3 linked regions of the Homo sapiens genome follow. The gene in region 1 interacts genetically with each later gene. Each region holds a gene or a part of one and is shown in the gene's direction. Other genes may lie near its edges. The genes, in order: PNISR, AURKA and MED23.

Evidence for each region.
Region 2: changes in PNISR (region 1) and AURKA together harm fitness more than expected from each alone (negative genetic interaction), as found in Homo sapiens cells (one large-scale study listed by BioGRID).
Region 3: changes in PNISR (region 1) and MED23 together harm fitness more than expected from each alone (negative genetic interaction), as found in Homo sapiens cells (one large-scale study listed by BioGRID).

The regions. Positions count from the first base shown.
Region 1 is NC_000006.12:99,408,235-99,411,890, reverse strand, and holds part of PNISR (arginine/serine-rich protein PNISR), read left to right. Parts: exon of another isoform or gene 1-926; coding exon 927-1,150; coding exon of another isoform or gene 1,151-1,174; exon of another isoform or gene 1,175-2,545; intron 2,546-2,546; coding exon 2,547-2,718; intron 2,719-3,619; coding exon 3,620-3,656.
Region 2 is NC_000020.11:56,385,587-56,389,242, reverse strand, and holds part of AURKA (aurora kinase A), read left to right. Parts: intron 1-458; exon of another isoform or gene 459-834; coding exon of another isoform or gene 835-931; intron 932-1,040; coding exon of another isoform or gene 1,041-1,045; coding exon 1,046-1,087; intron 1,088-2,709; coding exon 2,710-2,986; intron 2,987-3,656. UniProt on the Homo sapiens protein: Mitotic serine/threonine kinase that contributes to the regulation of cell cycle progression.
Region 3 is NC_000006.12:131,618,192-131,621,847, reverse strand, and holds part of MED23 (mediator of RNA polymerase II transcription subunit 23), read left to right. Parts: intron 1-1,118; coding exon 1,119-1,220; intron 1,221-1,951; coding exon 1,952-2,021; intron 2,022-3,328; coding exon 3,329-3,441; intron 3,442-3,656. UniProt on the Homo sapiens protein: Required for transcriptional activation subsequent to the assembly of the pre-initiation complex. Component of the Mediator complex, a coactivator involved in the regulated transcription of nearly all RNA polymerase II-dependent genes.

The DNA.
Region 1 (3,656 bases):
AATACTTTTTGTTTCTCCTTATAAGAATGGAGACCTCAGTCGAGACCAGCCTGGGCAACATAGCAAGGCCCTGTCTCTACAAAAAAAAAAAAAAAAAAAACCTTAAAACTTAGTCAGGCATAGAGGCGCATGCCTGTAGTCCCAGCTACTTGGGAGGCTGAGGTGGGAGGATTGCTTGAGCCTAGGGGATTGAGACTGCAATGAGCTGTGATCACGCCACTGCACTCCAGCCTGGGTGACAGAATGAGTCCCTCATTTAAAACAAACAAACAAAAAAAACGAGAATTCAGATTACTTTTAAAAACATAAATATTCTAGTCTTTGATACTGTGAGGTGGTTCATTTCTAGCTTTCTTGAAAGTGAAATTTCCCCACATTTGAAAATGTTTTAGTTCCTAAGTTTAAGTTCTTAAATGACTCCCGCGGGCATCCCTACCCCTTAGTTTTACTCTACTTTGTGACCCTGGGCAAGTGATTTACCTCTGTGTGCCTCGATTTTCCCTCCCGAAATTGGCAAAAATAATACCTAATTTCTCCCTACCTCACAGGGATGTTGTGAGGATAAATGTGTTCGTGTAAGAAAGAAATTATATAAAACCTCAAGGTATTATTTTTGTGGTGTTGTTACTAAACAAATATAAAAATTCAACAAAAATAGTGCTTTGGATTTTGTTACATTTGTTAAAAATAACTTTGGGCATTTGGTTAGGATATGAATTAGAGTGGAGTTAGCTCATTTTGAATTATATATGACAGTTTAGTTCATTGCTTATTTTTAAGATAAACAAAAGGAATTTGACCAAGAAGTCATAAGTTGTTTTTTAAATCTGTATGTTTACTGAAAAATCTTTCTTGAGATCTTAAAATTCTGTGTTGATTTTGTTATAACCGCCTGTTGAATGTTTTTATGCCTAAATCTTAAATAGAATGGGGAATGCATCAGCAACCCCCACACCCCCCTCCAGATCAGCCATGGATGCCACCAACACCAGGCCCAATGGACATTGTTCCTCCTTCTGAAGACAGCAACAGTCAGGACAGTGGGGAATTTGCCCCTGACAACAGGCATATATTTAACCAGAACAATCACAACTTTGGTGGACCACCCGATAATTTTGCAGTGGGGCCAGTGAACCAGTTTGACTATCAGGTGAAAGATATTTTGTTGCTTTAATATTGTAGATGTGCACGTAATCCATTCTTTGGAAGTGTCTCATCAAGAATACCTAAGATACGTGTTTCACTTTTCAGACTTGTATAAATAAGCACATTCTGTCTCAGTTATCAATTTTTGAGTATTAAAATAATTAGAATTTGTTTTCTGATTTTTTTATTTCATTAGGAAAATGGTATAAAAGATCATTACGGAAAACTTTTGAAAAAATTAAAAATGTATAAGTGCAATAGCTATATGATGTTTTATTTTCTAATTTATATTTCAAAATGGTATATTTAAATGTTAAAGACTAGAGAATGCACAGTAATTGAATATAGCTCATGGTTAAGACATGAATAAAAAATATAGATCATTTTCCTAAGTGTAATTCCTTGTGCTATGTAGAATTATGACTGTTTTTCTAGTGTCATTTTTTTTCCATTCTGACATGACATGTTAATGGAATTGTATATAATTTCCTCTGTAGCATCCAATTCATTCCTAGGGACATAGAACTCTGTGGGGAATAGTGTTGTATGTTGGGCTTTATTTACTTCATTCCCTCTGCCAGGGTCTACCCTTAAATTATAGTGCTAGGTGTCATTTTGAAATAACTGATTGCAATTATTAACTTATAAACTGCTATCATAATTTAAAATTTTGAAAGAATTATTTCATGAATTCTAGGGTAGATTTGATAATGGACATCTAGTATTCACCTTGAGATGGTAATCCTCTCATTAATAAATATTCAGATACTTGTATACTTGGTATACAGATACAACAGTTTTTATGTTGTTTGAAGAAATATAATGGCAGGGAGCATCTGCTTACCCTACTTTTGCATGGTAGATCCCATGTAAACAAGACAAAGAGCTGTATTGGCAGCTGGCCTAGAAAAGCCTCTGAAAATAGCAAAATTGCAGAAAATATTTAATGATTCATTAACTTCTATCTTTGCTTATAAATGAATATATCTGCAAGATTATAGAAACAGCTTAAGTTGTTTAGTTCACTTTTTGTTCACTGTAAGTAGGATGTTGAAATTGACAAAAATGTCTAGTTAAAGAGAAATTAGTATCTATTTGATGTCTTAGTGTTGGTAGGATTAGCTTGTAAATGGATTCAGAATGAAAAATTTCATATACTTCTTGAAAGTAGCTTATCAGCTGGCTTTTAGAAGCCTCTTTGCATTTACATAGCCGGAAAATCTTAAGACAAGTAAGCCTAGGTTCTTGGGACCATAGAAGTATCGGTGGATATTAGAGCCATGGAATTCTTGGATGTGCTGCACACATGGATTTCTACTGTCCCAGTTCATAACACACGTGTGTCCCAGAGAGTATATTGTATTAATTTGAAGAAAAAATAAACTGCAATACTCTTTCAGCATGGGGCTGCTTTTGGTCCACCGCAAGGTGGATTTCATCCTCCTTATTGGCAACCAGGACCTCCAGGACCTCCAGCACCTCCCCAGAATCGAAGAGAAAGGCCATCATCATTCAGGGATCGTCAGCGTTCACCTATTGCACTTCCTGTGAAGCAGGAGCCTCCACAAATTGGTAGCTATTTAACTTAGTTTAGTGGACCACAATTGGCATGACTTTTTTATCATATAAAAAGGATGTCTTGTTTTCTTAAAATTGTTTGAGTATCTCTGATGTGTTAGGAATTGACACTTTATTTTTTATGGTCATAAAGCTTAAAATTACAAAAATGATACTGGTCTGAAATTAAAAGGTTTAAATAATTTTATTTAAACCTTTACATTAAATTCCAGATTTTGTGATGAAGTGAAAATTTATGCTAGCCATAGCATGTTGGTATTTTCTTCAGTGTAGGCATTTCAGTACATTATACAGATATATGAGCCCTTCTCCTTTTAAATCTAATTGTTCAATCTCTGTCCACTCTTAGTTCATCTGATGCACTGCTGTCAGATTAATTTTCCTCTGGTTATTTCACTTCCCTTAAGTATTTTGGCAGAAAATTTCAATTTTTTAAATAACATTATAGAGCCAGCCTATTTCAAGTGACAAATACATATTTATGCCACTTTATATCTGGAAAGTTCTAAATTGTTCAGTATTTAATGGACAGGAGCATTTGTTAATAAATCTTTACTTTTTACATTTTAGGAAGATTCTAACTTTACTCCTTTTTTAACTTACTAGCAAATCACTTAATTTTTTCGAGTCTCAGTTTCCTCACCTGTGGAAAAAAGTGGAGTAATAGTAGTGATCTCTGAGGGCTTTTGTAAGGATTAAATTAGATGATGGTTTAACATGCTTTCATTGTGTCCTGGCAGATTGTAAGCACTAGAGCAGTGGTCCCTGCTGTTACTAAAAGTGATGGCATTGAAGAAAGGCATGATATTTAATGGGATATTTTTTAAATTTACTCACAAGTTTGTAGAAATATTTTACTTAACTGACTTGCGTATATTTTTCCCACGTGAAACAGACGCAGTAAAACGCAGGACTCTTCCCGCTTGGATTCG
Region 2 (3,656 bases), on another chromosome or scaffold:
GTGAAGGTGTAGATGGAGAAGTGGAGGGTCCAGGGACTCGTTCTTGAGTCACCCCAGACCCTTGATCTGGCAAAAATGAGACTGACCCAGCAAGGAGGGAAAGACAGGACGACTAGGTGGTAGATAAACCTGGAAGTGAAGTGAAGAAAAAAGTGTAAGATGTGATCAACCTTGTCAGATTCTGCTGAGGATGCAAGTACGGGGAAGGTGGAATTGACCCTTGGGTTTGGCAGCAGTAGGTGTCAGCCATGAGCCTGACAATGTGGTGGAGACAAAAAAGCCAGGTGGGGATGGGCTCAGGGGAGGGGAGAGGAGCAGTAGAGGTGGCAAGTGTGGACGGTTCTTCTGGAGCTTTGCTGTTGGAGAGGAGGGGGTCATTGTTAGCAACGATAATAGAATAAAGAGGACTTTTATTTTATTTTATTGTTTTGAGACGAAGTCTCGCTCTTTTCCCATAGGCTGGAGTGCAATGGTGTGATCTCAGCTCACTGCAACCTCTGCTTCCTGGGTTTAAGTGATTCTCCTGCCTCAGCCTCCCGAGTAGCTGGGATTACAGGTGACTGCCACCACGCTCAGCTAAGTTTTGTATTTTTAGTAGAGACGGGGTTTCACCATGTTGGCCAGGCTGGTCTCGAACTCTTGACCTCAGGTGATCCGCCCACCTCGGCCTCCCAAAATGCTGGGATTACAGGTGTAAGCCACCATGCCCGGCCTAAAGAGGACTTTTTTAAGGTAGCAGGTATGCCAGTAGGCTGCACAGGGATGGAAGTGATCCATTAGAGGAGAGATGATGGAGCAGCAAGACCATCAGGAGTGAAGACTCCGTGACAGAGGATGGGACGCAGTGCCCAAGGGGAGGTTGGCCTTGCAGGGAAAGCACATGCCTGTCCCTCCCTCATTAGCTTCATTTGGACAAAACATGTAAAATCCGGTGTGTTGTGGAGGCCTTTTGATTGGGGAACTGTAACGCTGCCTATCGAGCAACAGCACTTTAAGCAGGTGGCTTTGTTCAAATTAAAGGTTCTTCTTTTTCTTTTCAGGCATCATGGACCGATCTAAAGAAAACTGCATTTCAGGACCTGTTAAGGTAAATTGAATAATCTGTAATCTCATTCACATTTATAAACCCACATGGAGGTTGGTCTTGTCGGGAATTCTTTCCGCCTTTACTTTGGATTTAAATTTAGATCCCTTACTGTGATCCTGGATATGAATTAGTCACTTTTCTCGTGTTCAGTAACATTTTGCTGCTTCTTAGAGTAGCTTTTTTGTTCTGCTTTGTCTTATAATCGGCTGCTTAAGTTTCTATATCCCTCCACTGTATGCAGGATAATAGTAATAATGCATCTGGCAGGAGTTCAAAACTTTTAAAATTGGCCATAAATATAAAATAATTAGAAAAAGGCTACCTTGAATTACTGTATTTGATTCTAAGTTCCTATGATAACGGCCATTTAAAAAATTGCTCTATATTTAAAATGTTTCTTTTTATTTGTCTTTGTCTGAATGCCTGCTGCGTTGTGGACAGTGTGCTAATTTCAGGAGTAACTGACTTTGTATTTGGAAGTCTTAACACCCTCTCTTTGTAGAGCACTCATACCGTTGAGCTGGGGATGGACTTTGAGGCTTTCATTTCTAGCACTTGTCCCTCACTTACAATGAGCTGTTGAAGCTGAAGGAAATCTCATCCCTCCTACCCCTTTTAGTTTGATTAGCTGAGGGTGTTAGAGTTAACTTAACAATTTAAGGTTGTAATACAGTACTTACAGGCGTATAAATAATACATTTCAAGGCTGGGCGCGGTGGCTCACGCCTGTAATCCCAGCACTTTGGGAGACCAAGGAGAGTGGATCACAAGGTCAGGAGTTCAAGACCGGCCTGGCCAAGATGGTGAAACCCTGTTTCTACTAAAAATACAAAAAATTAGCCAGGCGTGGTGGCAGGCGCCTGTCGTCCCAGCTGCTTGGGAGGCTGAGGCAGAGAATTGCTTGAACCTGGGAGGCAGAGGTTGCAGTGAGCCGAGATCATGCCACTGCACTCCAGTCTGGGTGACAGAGCAAGACTCCATCTCAAAAATAATAATAATAATACATTTTAGTAGTAACTTTGTGAAGTGTCTACATTTGTTTCCTCTTTGTCAGTTTTTTGCTCAATTCCATTTTGTCAATACTTGGAAAATGAAACATTGGTTAATCAATAGTACAGTAATAAGCTTATTGTGGAAAATCTTCGATATATGAAAACTTAGACTCTTCTAAAACTTCATGAAGATAATACCACTGTTGAACGTTTTGACGTATTTTTTTTTGGTCTTTTTCTTAAACGTATATTATCAAAGAAATTTCAATGGAACTGAGATTTTGGCATAAAGTTTTTGTATCATAGCTTTTTGCCAAATAGCAATGTAGTGTCTATTTCCAAATTATTGAGAAATTTTAGAAAGTGTCTCCTTCATTAATGGATATTTGTTAATAAAGCATGATTTTTAGGGGTGAGGAATTGGAGGGGATAGAAGGTATCATTCAGGTATTCTTAGCCACATACTAACTATCCTCTGGAGGTACTGATTAAAATACCTTTTCACCTTCCATCTCTTATCAGTGACATTCATTATTTTGCTATACTAGAGAACAAACTTTGTGAAATTCTCAATATATTCATCTTTTGCTTTCATGAATGCCAGAAAGTTTATTTTCTCTTCCATTCTAGGCTACAGCTCCAGTTGGAGGTCCAAAACGTGTTCTCGTGACTCAGCAATTTCCTTGTCAGAATCCATTACCTGTAAATAGTGGCCAGGCTCAGCGGGTCTTGTGTCCTTCAAATTCTTCCCAGCGCATTCCTTTGCAAGCACAAAAGCTTGTCTCCAGTCACAAGCCGGTTCAGAATCAGAAGCAGAAGCAATTGCAGGCAACCAGTGTACCTCATCCTGTCTCCAGGCCACTGAATAACACCCAAAAGAGCAAGCAGCCCCTGCCATCGGCACCTGGTAAACTAGCTTTTGAGACTCATTGGATAGTCCTTCTTTGTCGTCGTTGCTAAAAAAGCCAGTGTATATACTTGCACTTATTGTTTGGAGCCTTAGCTTTTATATCTGTTGAGGATGGGGAGAAAATATGGTGTCTGGGTTGAAGTAACAGTGTCTGCCCATGGGCCAGACCTATGCTAAAAATACAGACCTGATTCTCACCCTCTTGGAAGAGTTGGGCACCCAGGGAGGACACAGCATAAATTGGTGTCCTTTTGATTGCTTGTTACTGAGTCTGGATGTAGGGTGCTTGCAGTAAGTGACTTGAAGGGACTGAGATCTAAAGTGTGGGGGAAATCCAGAGAAGTGGGTGAACTGAGGCAGGCTGCGGTGAGGTCACCATGGGCATTGCTGGCCATGTTAAGGAATGGGGCCTCATCTCTAGGGCATTTGGAAGCTACTGAAGCTTTTTTGAACTCAGAAGGGAACTCTGCCTTTTAGAAAGTTTACTGTGGAAGGCCAGGCGCAGTGGCTCACGCCTGTAATCCCAGCGCTTTGGGAGACCGAGGCAGGTGGATCACCTGAGGTCAGGAGTTGGAGACCAGTCTGACCAACATGGAGAAACCCTGTCTCTACTAAAAATACAAAATTAGCCAGGCGTGGTGGTGCACGCCTGTAATCCCAGCTACTC
Region 3 (3,656 bases), about 32 Mb from region 1:
ACCTCAAAAAAGTCTAGCTTTGTTTAGGTCTGTGCTTTTAATACTTACGGTATTTTGTGAGATGCTCTATTTCTTCTACCAAAAAAAAATCACTTCTATTTTAAAAGATGCTAGTTCCCTTATATTTCAAAAGGACATTTTAAATTTTAATTCATGGTTTTAAATTATGAAAACAATGAAATAGAAATTAAAATAGCTTAAACATTACAAGACCTTAGCATATGGACCACTTAAAAGATCTTTGTACTTTGTAACTAGTATCGCAAGAATTGTTACGTTGGTCTGTTGCACTCCTGTTTAAGTGTGCCAATATTTAAAGCATGTGCAAGGTTATTTACTAACCATGAACAATCCATTCCATTGTTTATTAATCTTTATTTTTAGATATTTTTTACATATAAATGTATTCTTTGCTACAGTTGAAACCCAATAAATCCATTAAATAATATCTCTATATTTTATTTTAATTGACAAGTAGCAATTGTCTGTGTGTGTGTATATATATTATATATACTTATTTTTTTATAATGATAACACTTAAAATCTACTCTCTTAGCAATTTTGAAGTATACACTATATCGTTATTAACCATAGTCACCATAATGTCCAGTAGGTCTCTTGAACTTATTCCTCTTGTCAAAGTGAAATTTTGTCCTTTGACCAACATCTCTCCAGAAAGTAACATCTCTACTTTTTAATGTCTTTTTTGTTGTCATTGTCATTGTAGTGTTTAAAACGCTCACATGGGCCAGATGCAGTGGCGCATGTCTGTAATCCCAGTGCTTTGGGAGGCCAAGGCGGGAGGCTCATTTAAGCCCATTGTTAGAGACCAGCCAGGACATCCTGGGGAGACCCTGTCTTTACAAAAAATTAAAAAGTTAGCCGGGCCTGCTGGCATACACCTATAGTCCCAGCTACTCTGGAGGCTGAGGTGGGAACACCACTGGAGCCCCAGAGGTTGAAGATGTAGTGAGCCATGATTACGCCACTGCACTCCAAGCCTGGGCAACAGAGCAAGACCCTGTCTCAAAAAAAAAAAAAAATAATGATAATAAATAAAATAAAGGGCTTATATGTGGGACTAGTCAAGAATGATGTGGCCTTTTTGTTTTTCTTAGGTTATAGCATATATCTTGGAAAGAAATGCCTGCTTATTACCAGCCTATTTTGCAGTCACTGAGATCAGGAAACTGTATCCTGAAGGCAAACTTCCACACTGGGTAAATTTTATATTTCCTGAATTTTTAATAAAAATTTTCGGCTGGGCTTCGTGGCTCACAGCACTTTGGGAGGCAAAGGTGGGAAGATGATTTGAGGACAAGAGTTCAAGACCCAACCTGGGTAACATAACAAGACTCTGTCTCTGCAAAACATTAAAAAACACACGCACACATATTAGCCAGGCATAGTAGCACATGCCTATAGCCCCAGCTACTCAGGAGCTGAGGTGGGAGGATTACTTGAAACCAGGAGTTTGAGGCTGCAGTGAGCTGTGATCACACCACTGTACTCTAGCTTCGGCAAAAGGACGAGACCCTGTCTCACACACAAAAAAGGGTATTTTATAAAAAACAGTTATATTAATCTTATTTTTGTGTGCTTATTTTTTTAATGATGACTTTTATCCTTAGATAATATGTATATTTTTAATCATGATGTATTTCTTTCATTTCCATTTCCATTGAGAATTTATATGCCATGTAATAAAATATGATCAGCTTCATCAAATAGCTAAGGATATGGTGGTGTGACTTGGTTTAATTAAGGGACAGATGAACTGGCGAGTGATTTTTTAGAAGGAAGCAAAAGGGAGCTAACCTTTAAACAGTTATCATGTGCAATCTTTACATATATTATCTCATTTTATATAAATGTTCATATATTTCAGGGGCAGTCTCAATTTTCCTTTTGTACGTATTTATTTGACTTCCCTCTTTCTTTCTCTCTTTAGTTACTTGGAAACCTAGTATCAGACTTTGTGGATACCTTCAGGCCCACAGCAAGGATAAACTCCATTTGTGGTAGGATTATAATTTTAAATATGCCAAATAGTACCTGATTTTTAGTAATCTAATTATTGAACAAAGCTGAGGGATGTTCTCTTAATATGTGCCTTGGTGGCTTGTCATTTTGGTGACTCTCTAAGAGCTTAATATAATGCCTTTCCCTTGTTTTCACTTACTCTGTGTGCCAAGTACAGGGAGGAAAAAGAAACTCTCTGGAATGGGTTTAAGCTTCATTTAAAACCATTCTAGAAGTGGGTTTCTTGGTGATTAGAAAGACATTTTAATACAGCTAGTAAAGCACCATGGAATTTCTAGGCAGCTGGAAGTCTGAACAGACCTGTCCCTCTGTGGCTACAGAACGTGAAAGTGTCAGGCTCACTCAGCCCATTCTAATTCCCACTTTTGCTTTTCCTTTCGCATTTTCCCATGTTTTGTTAGAGTCTCTGAACTTTCTTTTAAAAATAACCATGTGATTTGGCAATTTTTGCAGTGCCCACATATCCTCTTTAATTATTTCTAGAAATCATGGTGACCTCAACTGTGTGGAAATATAGACCATTGTTTATTCAGTGATCAAATATTGAGTACTTCCTATAAGCCAGGTGCTATTCTAGATACTGAAAATACAAATACAATCTAAATAGACACTAGACAGATAATTATCAGGTTTCTAGCTTTTGTAACTGAGTGGATATTGATATCATGTAGTGAATTATGGAAGCAAAGTAGGTTGGAGAAGGATGATGAATTTGAGACATGTTAAGCTTGAGGTGCTTGTAGGACATCCAAGTGACGATATTTGTTAGGCAGTTGGATGTATGAGCTGATAGTCATATGTGACATCTAAGGCCTCTAGGAATATCGTGCATAAAGTTTAATCATGTTGACACTGGACTAGTGGTCTTAAACTTTTTCCTGTAAAGGGCCATGTAGTAAATATTTTAAGCTTCGTAGGCTACAGAATCTGTTGCAGCTACTCAGCTCTGCCATTGGACTGCAAAAGCAGTGGTGTTCCAATAAAACTTTACAAAAACAGGTGCCAGGCTGGATTTGGCCCATGGATTATAGTTGGCTGATCTCTGCCCTAGACATTTAGACAAAATGCGATATTTTCAACTTTGGAAAGCCTGTGCAAATTGATCTTCAACTATCTGAACTAAAAATAAAATTCCCAACCTTCAGTCTCATTGAAACATTTTTATAAGCCATTTTTAAACCAAACCAATGCCTATTTCAGCATATATGTTCATTAAATATTTGTGAAGTGAATGAAGTACTGCTGTGTTCACATTTACTTAAAAACATTTTTGTAATACATACAGGTCGCTGTAGTCTTCTGCCAGTTGTAAATAATTCGGGTGCCATTTGTAATTCATGGAAACTGGATCCTGCTACTCTTCGTTTTCCTTTGAAAGGCCTTTTGCCATATGATAAGGTATGTTGCTAAATATAATGGCACTTTTAGTCCATCTGACAGTCTTCAACCTAGATTATAAGATATGTGATGCTAAATTGTTGCTTCATAATCTGAAGAAGTAAATATTTAATGAAAGATAGTTTATAGTTTATCATGTTATTCTAGTATCTAAATATACCCTGTGGTTTATGCTATTGTGGGTGTTTATGCTCCAGTGGTCCACCTCTGGCAAA